Linked DNA regions of Homo sapiens. The protein of the gene in region 2 purifies or fractionates together with the protein of the main gene of each other region. This does not show direct contact. Each region holds a gene or a part of one and is shown on either strand. Other genes may lie near its edges.

Region 1 (3,657 bases), on a different chromosome or scaffold from region 2:
CCGAGATTGCGCCATTGCACTCCAAGCCTGGGCTACCGAGTGAGACCCCATCTCAAAAGAAAAACAGAAAAACAAACAAACAAACAAAAAAAAACAGAAAATGTGGGAAGTTAAGTTGAAAAATAAACACCTTCAAAGCTATTAACTTGGATTTTCTTTTCTTTTCTTCTTCTTTTTTTTTTTTTTTTTTTTGAGTCAGGTTCTCACTCTGTCGCCCATTCATACTCTGTCCAGTTCATTGAAAATACAAGTCTGATTCCCTTGAGTTGTGATATTCATACACACACGAGTATATATACACTTATGTGTGCATATGTATATTATATAAAGTTTTACGTGATATATAATATAAGTTTTTACTTTCTGTAAAATAAAATTTGTTAGGGCCGTATAATAGTTTTGAATATTCATATTATTGTGTTCCACATTATAAGCTCTAATTACATCGTGTTGCACTCAGATTGACATTCTGCTGTTGACACTGAAAATAACGCTTTCATTCATAGATGAATGTAATTTTCAAGCTTTTTTTCTATATTTCTTAACTTGCTTGAATGTTCCCATTTTTGCCATTTCTTGTTGTTCATTTTAACATTTTGGGGCTTGTGTTTCAGATCAGGAAGAATCACCATTATAGGGTGCAAAGAGTTTGCTCAGAGGTGAAAATGATACGAAATTGTCCCTAGAGCACATCCTATTGCTATACTATTCAACATGTATGAATTAATCTACTGGGAAAGTGTCTTGTGTAGTGTGTACTTTAAAGATGTTTTCAATCACTTTGCTTTGGATTAGAAAAATTCAAGGTAACTATAATTTTAAATGCTCATATTTTTATGTTTATTTTATATGTAGGAAGAGAAATTTTTAAAAATTGGAATAACACTATATCCCATTCTTTTCATTTATTACATTATAAACATGTTTCCAAGTGATCAAATATTTTTAAAAATGTTTAAAATCACTGCAGTATATTTTATATAATGGCTGTTTCATAATTTATTTCACTAATTCCAAGTTGTTGAACATTTGTTTCCATATCTTACAGATAATGCTTCAGTAAGCATTCTTGATCGAACATCATTTTGCACTCTATCATTTTTTAGAAGTCACCAAGAATGTTTTAAAGATGAATTCCTTTGATAGTCCCTGAAATTTAAACATTGGCTTAAACAAAAAGATAGCCTTGATTTCAGTGGCATTTAAAAAAAGAAGGCTGGGCATGGTGGCTCAGGCCTGTAATCCCAATACTTTGGAAGGCCAAGGCAGGCAGATCACTTGAGGTCAGGAGTTCAAGACCAGCCTGGCCAACATGGCAAAACTCCGTCTCTACTAAAAATACAAAAAAACTAGCTGAGCATGGTGGCGCACGCCTGTAATCCCAGCTACTTGGGAGGCTAAGGCAGGAGAATCGCTTGAACCCAGGAGGTGAAGGTTGCAGTGAGCCAAGATTGCACCACTGCACTCCAGCCCGGGCAACAGAGCACGACTCCGTTTCAAAAAAAAAAAAAAAAAAAGAAGAAGAAAAAAGAAAAGGCCATTCTTTATATAGTGTATTGTATCATATGTGACTCTAAACTGGAACTTGTTTAGGTAAAGTATATGTCTTGGAAGTATTTTGGTTTTCTCTGATCTAGTTAGCAGGTGCAGAGCAGGATGAGGTAGGATTCTGTGCTGTGTACAATCATAGGAAGTTCTGTTTTTTGAAACGGAACTGTTAATGGGGGAAGGGAGACACGTTTGTTTTTAAGAAGCCTTTATGTTTAATATTATTATAAAACTCAGTTCAAGTATACAAAGCTTATTTGTGCCTATGAACATTCAGTATCCTAAAGAAACATTTAATCCTGGTGTTGGCTAAATGACTATTTGCTGATATGCCCTTTTATCTCAAGGCTATTAGTTTCTTAAAGTACTTTGATATCACTCAATAAACTACAGTTAAACTCAGAGTTTTACATTTCATTCAGGTTGCTTAAATAATATAACTAAACATAGGTCCAATAATAGTAAAAATTCTGATGCTGTCACTTAATTTGTGCCTGGTTTCAGTATATGGCGATTGCTTAAATTACAAGCACTTGAATTTACAAATATTTTGTGTATTTAAATGGCTCATTGTACATTACATATCCCTCCTGAAACTTAACCCATGCCATTTCACAGACCCTTCCATGGTGTTTTTCTCTTTCCTCCAGTTCACTAGCCTCACTCACCAAAGACTTTATTGGTCTGGGAATTCTATTATGACCCAGAAGTGACTTGGAAGGTTCCTTTCACCCAACAACACATTCTCACTACCTTTCTTTTCTTTTCAGGGGCATCATTTACATGCTATGTTGCACAGTCAGAATGGATTTTAGCATAAAGTATGGGTTCCAATAGCTCTCGCATTTTATTATTTATTTATTTGTTTAGAGACAGAGCCTCACCTTGTCGCCCAGGCTGGAGTACAGTGGCACAATCTCGGCTCACTGCAACCTCCATCCCCCAGGTTCAAGCGATTCTCCTGCCTCAGCCTTGTGAGTAGCTGGGATTATAGGCTCCTGCCACTGTGCCCGGCTAATTTTTGTATTTTTAGTAGAGATGGGGTTTCACCGTCTTGGCCAGGCTGGTCTTGAACTCTTGACCTCGTGATCCACCTGCGTTGGCCTCCCAAAGTGCTGGGATTACAGGCATGAGCCACCGCGCCTGGGCCAGCTCTCCCATTTTATATCTCTGTGGCATTGAGGAGGTTTCTTAACTCTCTGAACCTCAGTTACCCCATGAATAAAATGAAGATAATACACTCACTTTTCACTTTGTTCTCATAATTATTATATGAGAACACTTATAAAGCAACTAGCATATGGTAGGTGCTCAATAAGTATTTTCATTTACAGGTTGATTAATGTTGCCTTAGATGATTTTTGTCAGGCATCTATATCTACCTCTTTTTCTCTAATTTGAGTACCTTCCTACCTTCCTTTTTTTTTTTTTTTTTTTGGACAGAGTCTTGCTTTGTCGCCCAGGCTGGAGTGCAACTGTGCGATCTCAGCTCACTGCAACCTTGACTTCCCGGGGCTCAAGCGATCTCCGTGCCTCAGCCTCCCGAGTAGCTGGGATTACAGGCGTGTACTACCATGCCTGGCTAACTTTTTTTTGTAGTTTGTTTTTTAGTAGAGATGGGATTTCCCCATGTTGCCCAGGCTGGCAAGATTTTAGAAATTAGTGGGGTTTTTTGTGTTTTATTTAATGGTATTGGAAAAACACTCCTTTTATTGTTTTTCATTGTGAATGTGAAGGATTCTAGCCATGTTTCAGGTTGAAGAAGCTTCTTCGCTTAGCTCAGAAACCTGTTTATCGTTTAATTTATTCTTTTTTTTTTTTTTTTTTTGAAACGGAGTCTCACTGTGTCGTCCAGGCTGGAGTGCAGTGGCGCGATCTCAGCTCACTGCAACCTCCGCCTCCGGGTTCATGCGATTCTCCTGCCTCAGCCTCCCGAGTAGCAGGGACTACAGGTGCCCACCACCATGCCCTGCTAATTTTTTGTATTTTTAGTAGAGACGGGGTTTCACTGTGTTAGCCAGGATGGTCTTGATCTCCTAACCTCATGACCACCCACCTCGGCCTCCCAAAGTGTTGGGATTACAGGCGTGAGCCACTGAACCCTGCCAT
Region 2 (3,657 bases):
GACTCCACCTACTAGCTTGTAACCTTATTTTTGAGCAGGGTAGAGAACCTCTCTAGCCTTTAGCTTTTTCGTCTGTAAAATGGAGACAATGTACTGATCTCATAGTGCTGTTGTGAGGATTAAATGGGTTAATACAGGTAAAGCATTTAACAGTAAGCACTCAATTAATTTTGGTGTCATCCCCATTTTACAAGTGTGAAGCTCTGAGAATTCTTAAAACCCACCCAAATGTACACACTATCATGCTTCTGTCATGCAAACAATTTGAATAAATCTCCTAAAAGATATTATAAGATACCAAAGCACAACACAGTTTGTTGCTCTTAAGGACATGAATGTTGGAAAAATTAAGAAATGTAAGGGTGAAAGTTGGTAGTACAAATGTAAGGCAGTATGTGATTACCAAATAAAGTGATAGGGGATAACTGTGTAGTCCAAAAACCTTAGTTCAGATGCAGATGTTTTCTCTGACTCCTTTTTCACCAGTGACAAATTACTTAACTCCTCTGAGCCTTCTTTAGTTATATGTAAAGTGAAGATGTCATCACAGGATTTATGTGAGCTGAAATAAAGTTATATGCCAGTACTCAGAGAAGTGTATTTTATATAGAACATTCTAGAAGATGTTTATTGGTACAATTTAAGAATTCAGGAGAGAGAAAGATCTAGGACATTTGTGTGAGATCCTGATAAAATATTTCATATAGAAGGAAGTCGAAGCTATTGGTTACAATTAGATTTTAAAATTTTAGCCCTGAATTTCACTTATACTAGTCCACCACCAAATTCTTATAACTCAGAAAGTTGACTGAATGTTCGTCTGGATATGCTTAAACTAAGAGAGGCAAAAGAAAAGATCACATTTTGATTTCCATTATTCTTACATGGTAAAACATGAGACTAAATTCCTGCTAGATTCCAGGATTTTTGTCCTCTTAAAATTTTATTTTTGCCAGGTAGGAAGTCTGATACATAAGACACTTTCAGAAATTGGCAAGAGTTTTTCTTGACAAAAAACTTAATCCCCAAATGGATCTAGGATATTGTTTCTTTCCATGTTTTTAGTTGAGAATATTATTTTACAGTTTACTTATTGCAGTGGACTTCTAAGTGAATTCAGTTGTACAACTTTCAAATATTTTAAAGTATTGATATATATGAATAGCTACCACATAGAAAATATAAATATTCTAGAAAAAATGTCAGTAAGCAGAACTCAGTAACTGTAGTTTCTGAATAAACTGTACATTTATTGAGTTATTGATATGTTCTGGATTTTCAGAGAGGGGTACAATCTGTTTTAATGCTTTGCATTGCAATTTCATAATAATTGGGAAATAGTTTGTAGATTTTTTTTTTTAAGAGAAAAGCATTTTTATTGTTTTCAGGAACACTGTAGTAATTTGAATCAATTGGTGGCTTACAGCTTCAAAAAAGGCCATTCTTCATCTACTGTAATGAACGGATAAGTATGATAATCCAAATTATGTATTGAATAGTATATAATTTGCAGCATCTATCTGCACAATAGCAATTTAAACAGTCCTTTTTCTTCCTAATTTTTTGCTACATTATTTTAAAATTTATATCTAATAAAAAATACAAAGTTCTGTCTCTTTTTGTCTTACTTAAAATGGTTTAAAAAGTAGCTTTTAAAATTGTCATTATACATCTGGAGTATTATCCAACATATTCTTTTTAAGATAATTTCAGTCTTTTGTGTTTCTGACTTAATTGAAATTTAGTGACAAGTACAAATTATACATTCAAAACAATTATTTCTATAGCACCAACTGAAGTGTTACAAAAATGATTTCCAAATTTCAGCTAGTAGCCAAATTATTTCAGATATTACAGTTGAAGAAAGAATACTGATTCAGGGTTTGAATCTTAATTTAATAATGATGTGACCTTGGATATATAGCTTAATCTTTCCGAACCTCAATTTCCTCATCTATAAAATGGAGTTTGATTTATTCAACAAATTTTTACTGAATATACATTTTTCTGTCCCAGACAATATTCTAAGAACTGGGAATTCAGTGGATAGTAAGACAGAGTCCTTGTCCTCATGGAGCTTACCTTCTAGGGGAAACATGAAGTATCTATCTGGTATATGACACAATAATTCCATTTCTGTCATTACCTCTTCCTTTCCTGAGCCTCAGCTTTCTCATTTGTAATCTTCGCAGGCTTATCGTGAGGATATTTTATTATCTTAAGTGCTGTAAGCATGTCATGTATTATTTCTATAGGAAAAAACTTGAATAGTACCTTGGAGTTGATAGTATGTTTGTCTCTTCTGTCATTTGTTAAAGTAATTATTTGAGCATAAGATAATTGCTTTAAATTAGGAGTAATATTAATTTGGATTCAACTACTCATTCCATGCTTAGTTAACATTTAGTTCTTCTGCCTTGCTGACTTCATCCCTTACATTGCCTGTGTATATAGCTGTCTCTCTCCTACATTTAAAATACCTTAGCGGTCAGGAACTATTTTAATCTTAATTATCTTTTTTACTCCCATGATGCCTAACAGTATTTTACATATATTTGTGACATCTATGGGCCTGGATTTTCTGGAATGATAGCTGTTTATTTAATTTTACTCTCTTCAATAAAGATAATTTGTTAAATAAATAACTAAATGAAAATATTATAGCCATAAGGCCTTCTATATTAATATATTCACAAATGAAGCTTTTCTATAATCAGCCCAAGTGTTCCAAAAAAAAAATATATATATATATAGGGATTGTCTCTGTAGCAAAAATTTGGAAAGCGTATAAATGTCCATTAGTGGAAACTGATTAAATTCATTGCATTCATAAATTATGCACCTATTAAAAATGATGACATGGACCTGTGTTTATTGCTATAAGGTGATATCTCTAATATGTCAACAATTGAAGAAAATTAAGCTAAAAACAGGTAGATTATTATATTTTTTTAATTTAATAATGTCTAAAAAGCTAGACAGCTAGCTAACTAGAGTAACCAAAAGGCTATAGTGATTTTTTGGGGGGGATTTGGGGGAGGGTTGGAAGGGGATTTATAAGTGATTTTTACTTTGTTATTTTATTTATTTATTTATTTTTGAGACAGTGTCTCGTTCTGTCGCCCAGGCTGGAGTGCAGTGGCACAATCTCAGCTCACCGCAACCTCCGCCTCCTGGGTTCAAGCGATTATCTTGCCTCAGCCTCCGAGTAGCTAGGACTACAGGCGTGTGTCACGACACCAGCTTATTTTTGTGTTTTTAGTAGAGACGGGGTTTCACCATGTTGACCAGGCTGGTTTCAAACTCCTGACCTCAAGTGATCCACCTGCCTCAGCCTCCCAAAGTGCTGGGATTACAAGCATGAGCCACCACGCCTGGCCTGTTATGTTTTTTAATGAGCTGAACATACATGTTTGTATAATCACACAAATAAAAGCTATTTGTATTTTGTGAAAAAGAAAAAATCTATTTGTTTTTCAAATCATGTGTTCTGATATTCAATTCAGCTAATGGTGGACATTATATAGGAGTGCAACAGAAACTTAAGAATAAAAATAGATCTCAGTTCTTCCTTTTTGGATTATCAACATAAATATTTTAAATTCTATATTAACTTTTTCATTGGTCTTTAATATGGAATATACTAAATTACATGCA
Region 3 (3,657 bases), on a different chromosome or scaffold from region 2:
TAAACAACTGTCTCCAGTTGTTTAATGGTAACTAGCTTTCTCTTAAGGAAAGTTTTTAGAGGCTACGTATGCTTATATGTCACTGGTTAGAACTTAGTTGCATGATCCGATGCTAGAAAATCTAGCCTTTATTCTGAAAGAGTATGTGCACAGCAACAGAAAACAAACCTAGAACAAATATTGAGGATGACCTGCTGTTTGAAGAAAAAGCAAGAAATTAAATTTAGCTCATAGTTTACTTCCTATGTAAAATATAAATAATCTTATTGTCAGATATCTTTGTTTTAGAAAGTGACTGCTAATGTTGGGCTAGTACTAGAGAGAATTTTCTGTTATGTACATTTTATTTAGATTTGACAAGCTTTGGGTCAGTAATTTCGTTACGGGTAGGCACTAATTTTTCAAAGCTTTGGGATAAGTAGGGGCAGCAAGAGAAACTAGAAGTTGTTTTATGGTCCCCTTAGATTTCTTCATCTCTGATTGTTAGTTATTAATGGCCATATTTTAATTAACTGTGGAAGCAGGTAAAAATGACTTTATCATGTGTTTCCTTCTTTAAAACGGCTTTACTTACAGTGACCCTTTGTAGAATACATTAATGTTGTCTTTCTCTATATTATTTTTTTTTTTATTATTGAGACAGAGCCTCGCTCTGTCGCCCAGGCTGGAGTGCAGTGGCGTGATCTTGGCTCACTGCAAGCTCCGCCTGCCGGGTTCACGCCATTCTCCTGCCTCAGCCTCCCGAGTAGCTGGGACTACAGGCGCCTGCCACCACGCCCGGCTAATTTTTTTTTTTTTTTGTATTTTTAGTAGAGACGGGGTTTCACCGTGTTAGCCAGGATGGTCTCGATCTCCTGACCTCGTGATCTGCCCGCCTCGGCCTCCCAAAGTGCTGGGATTATAGGCTTGAGCCACCACGCCCAGCCATCTTTCTCTATATTATTAATTGTAATTTTAGAATATCTCCAGTAGACATACAGGTTTATGATATTGAAGAACAGAGTAGATTATTTGGGTTTATAATCGAACAAATTATACTGAGAGAATAAAATCCTTTTTGCTAGAGCATTATTCTCTGTAAAGAAGCACCAGGAATTCTTGTTAAAAATCCAGGTTTCCAGTTTCACTTTCAGAGAATTTTTATTTTATTTGAAATGGAAATGAAAAATCAACAGATAAGCCTTTTAAGGTCGTCCTTAACTGAAGGAAGATCTATGCTAGAAGAGTATAGTTGAAACAAAAACCTAAACTAAACTCGTATGAATTAATTTTAAATTGAAACAGACAAATATTCAAGAATGGAGAGTTGAAAGATGATCAAAATGACTAGCTTTATAATCTAAGATAATTATACAATTTATAATTATCTAAGGAACTGTTAGATGACTCTTTGCTTTTAAGGCGAGATTAGTCTTTTTTAACAGTGTTATTACTAGAAAAAAGTTGCTGAGCATGGTGGCTCACACCGGTAATCCCAGCACTTTGGGAGGTTGAGGGAGGCAGGCAGGTCACCTGGGGTCAGGAGTTCAAGAGCGGCCCGGCCAACTTGATATAAAAATATAAAACATATTTATAAAAATAAAAAATATATTTATAAAAATATAAAAATTAGGCATAGTGGTGCGTGCCTGTAGTCTCAACTACTCAGAAGGCTGAGGCAGGAGAATTGCTTAAACCCGGGAGGCAGAGGTGGCAGTCAGCCAAGATGGCACCACTGCATTCTAGCCTGGGCGACAGAGCAAGACTCCGTCTCAAAACAAACAAAAATAAAAAACAGTGTTATTACTAGAAAAAAGTTAATCCAGGAGGTAGCAAAGTCTGATTTACAGCCTTGTTTTTAAAGAGATAATTAGAAGCTATAACTTATGTCTTGTTGCAGTCTGGTTAGAATTTTCAGACTCTTCAGACTACTTTGTGCTTAGTGGCACCCATATTCTTTGAACCTGTACTTTTTGTGGATGAAATACTGTGTCAGAATATTTGGGAGTATGATTAGTGTCTATTCATTTTTTATTACAGGTGGCTTTCCTGGGGGAATGCCTGGTAATTTTCCCGGAGGAATGCCTGGAATGGGAGGGGGCATGCCTGGAATGGCTGGAATGCCTGGACTCAATGAAATTCTTAGTGATCCAGAGGTTCTTGCAGCCATGCAGGTAAGACTTGGAAGAAAAACTTTGGACTTTGTATCATTAAGGCAATTCTTTCATAATTCTGTGTGGAGACAAAGGTTACTCTCATAGCTATTTTTTATTTATCACAGTTACCAAATAGCTAATTATGCAAGAGTGACATTTATTTTCTTTATGCAGAGTGAGTAACTTAAATTTTTAAAACTAGGAAATACTTAGCAATCGGCAATTATATCCAGTTGTCCTTTTCTTTGTATCAAAATTGTGCTTTTTTCATCATACAGTTCAAATGACTTAATTCAGCTTGATTTTGATACTTCAAGCACTCATCTAAACCCCATTTAACTTAACTATCACCAAATTACAGGTCTAAATAAGAGATGGAATTTAGGATAATAAACTTACTGACCCAGTAGGACACTTTTTAAATACTAATGAACCCTTTCTTTTCAGGATCCAGAAGTTATGGTGGCTTTCCAGGATGTGGCTCAGAACCCAGCAAATATGTCAAAATACCAGAGCAACCCAAAGGTTATGAATCTCATCAGTAAATTGTCAGCCAAATTTGGAGGTCAAGCGTAATGTCCTTCTGATAAATAAAGCCCTTGCTGAAGGAAAAGCAACCTAGATCACCTTATGGATGTCGCAATAATACAAACCAGTGTACCTCTGACCTTCTCATCAAGAGAGCTGGGGTGCTTTGAAGATAATCCCTACCCCTCTCCCCCAAATGCAGCTGAAGCATTTTACAGTGGTTTGCCATTAGGGTATTCATTCAGATAATGTTTTCCTACTAGGAATTACAAACTTTAAACACTTTTTAAATCTTCAAAATATTTAAAACAAATTTAAAGGGCCTGTTAATTCTTATATTTTTCTTTACTAATCATTTTGGATTTTTTTCTTTGAATTATTGGCAGGGAATATACTTATGTATGGAAGATTACTGCTCTGAGTGAAATAAAAGTTATTAGTGCGAGGCAAACATAACTCATTTGAGGATAAAGTTTGTGTTGGATATGTGGTTCCTGATGCATTTTGACTTGTCTTTTTAAATGCTTTATCTTTTTCTTTAAAGATTTATTTCAATAAAACTAATTGGGACCACCCGTATTTCAGTAGGACCTGGGTAGGGATTGGAAGTACTTGGCAGGGCAGCAGCAATCTTGCTGTGTTTGATATAACATGCATCCTTGGGCAGGTTGCCCTTAAATCTTACACTGTGGTGAAGGGATGTTTTTTTTGTAATGCTGCAGTAGAGTTGGAGTACTTAGTTCTCTTGTTGTCCAGTATATCTAATAAGTGTTTTTCATATTATTTCCACGTAAGGGAAATAAGGTAGTACTTTTCTTTTTATATTTCTATGCTTAAAATTCTCTTTCCTAGTCAAAAATTGCCCAAATCTGTGTTTGCTTTCTGCTTGCTACATTTGTCTCCCTTACTTTTCTTGAGCTAAAGACAGGCTTTTTCCACCGGCATCATCACTGCTATCATCATTAACAGCGTAATTATACAAGCATATTTAATG

Evidence for each region.
Region 1: the proteins of DNAJB14 (region 2) and PLS3 purify together in Homo sapiens (affinity purification with mass spectrometry, with the first as the bait; one large-scale study listed by BioGRID). This does not show direct contact.
Region 3: the proteins of DNAJB14 (region 2) and ST13 purify together in Homo sapiens (affinity purification with mass spectrometry, with the first as the bait; one large-scale study listed by BioGRID). This does not show direct contact.

The regions. Positions count from the first base shown.
Region 1 is NC_000023.11:115,567,538-115,571,194, forward strand, and holds part of PLS3 (plastin-3), read left to right. Parts: intron 1-3,657. UniProt on the Homo sapiens protein: Actin-bundling protein.
Region 2 is NC_000004.12:99,940,034-99,943,690, reverse strand, and holds part of DNAJB14 (dnaJ homolog subfamily B member 14), read left to right. Parts: intron 1-3,657. UniProt on the Homo sapiens protein: Acts as a co-chaperone with HSPA8/Hsc70; required to promote protein folding and trafficking, prevent aggregation of client proteins, and promote unfolded proteins to endoplasmic reticulum-associated degradation (ERAD) pathway.
Region 3 is NC_000022.11:40,825,592-40,829,248, reverse strand, and holds part of ST13 (hsc70-interacting protein), read left to right. Parts: intron 1-2,019; coding exon 2,020-2,153; intron 2,154-2,582; coding exon 2,583-2,711; 3' UTR 2,712-3,657. UniProt on the Homo sapiens protein: One HIP oligomer binds the ATPase domains of at least two HSC70 molecules dependent on activation of the HSC70 ATPase by HSP40. Stabilizes the ADP state of HSC70 that has a high affinity for substrate protein.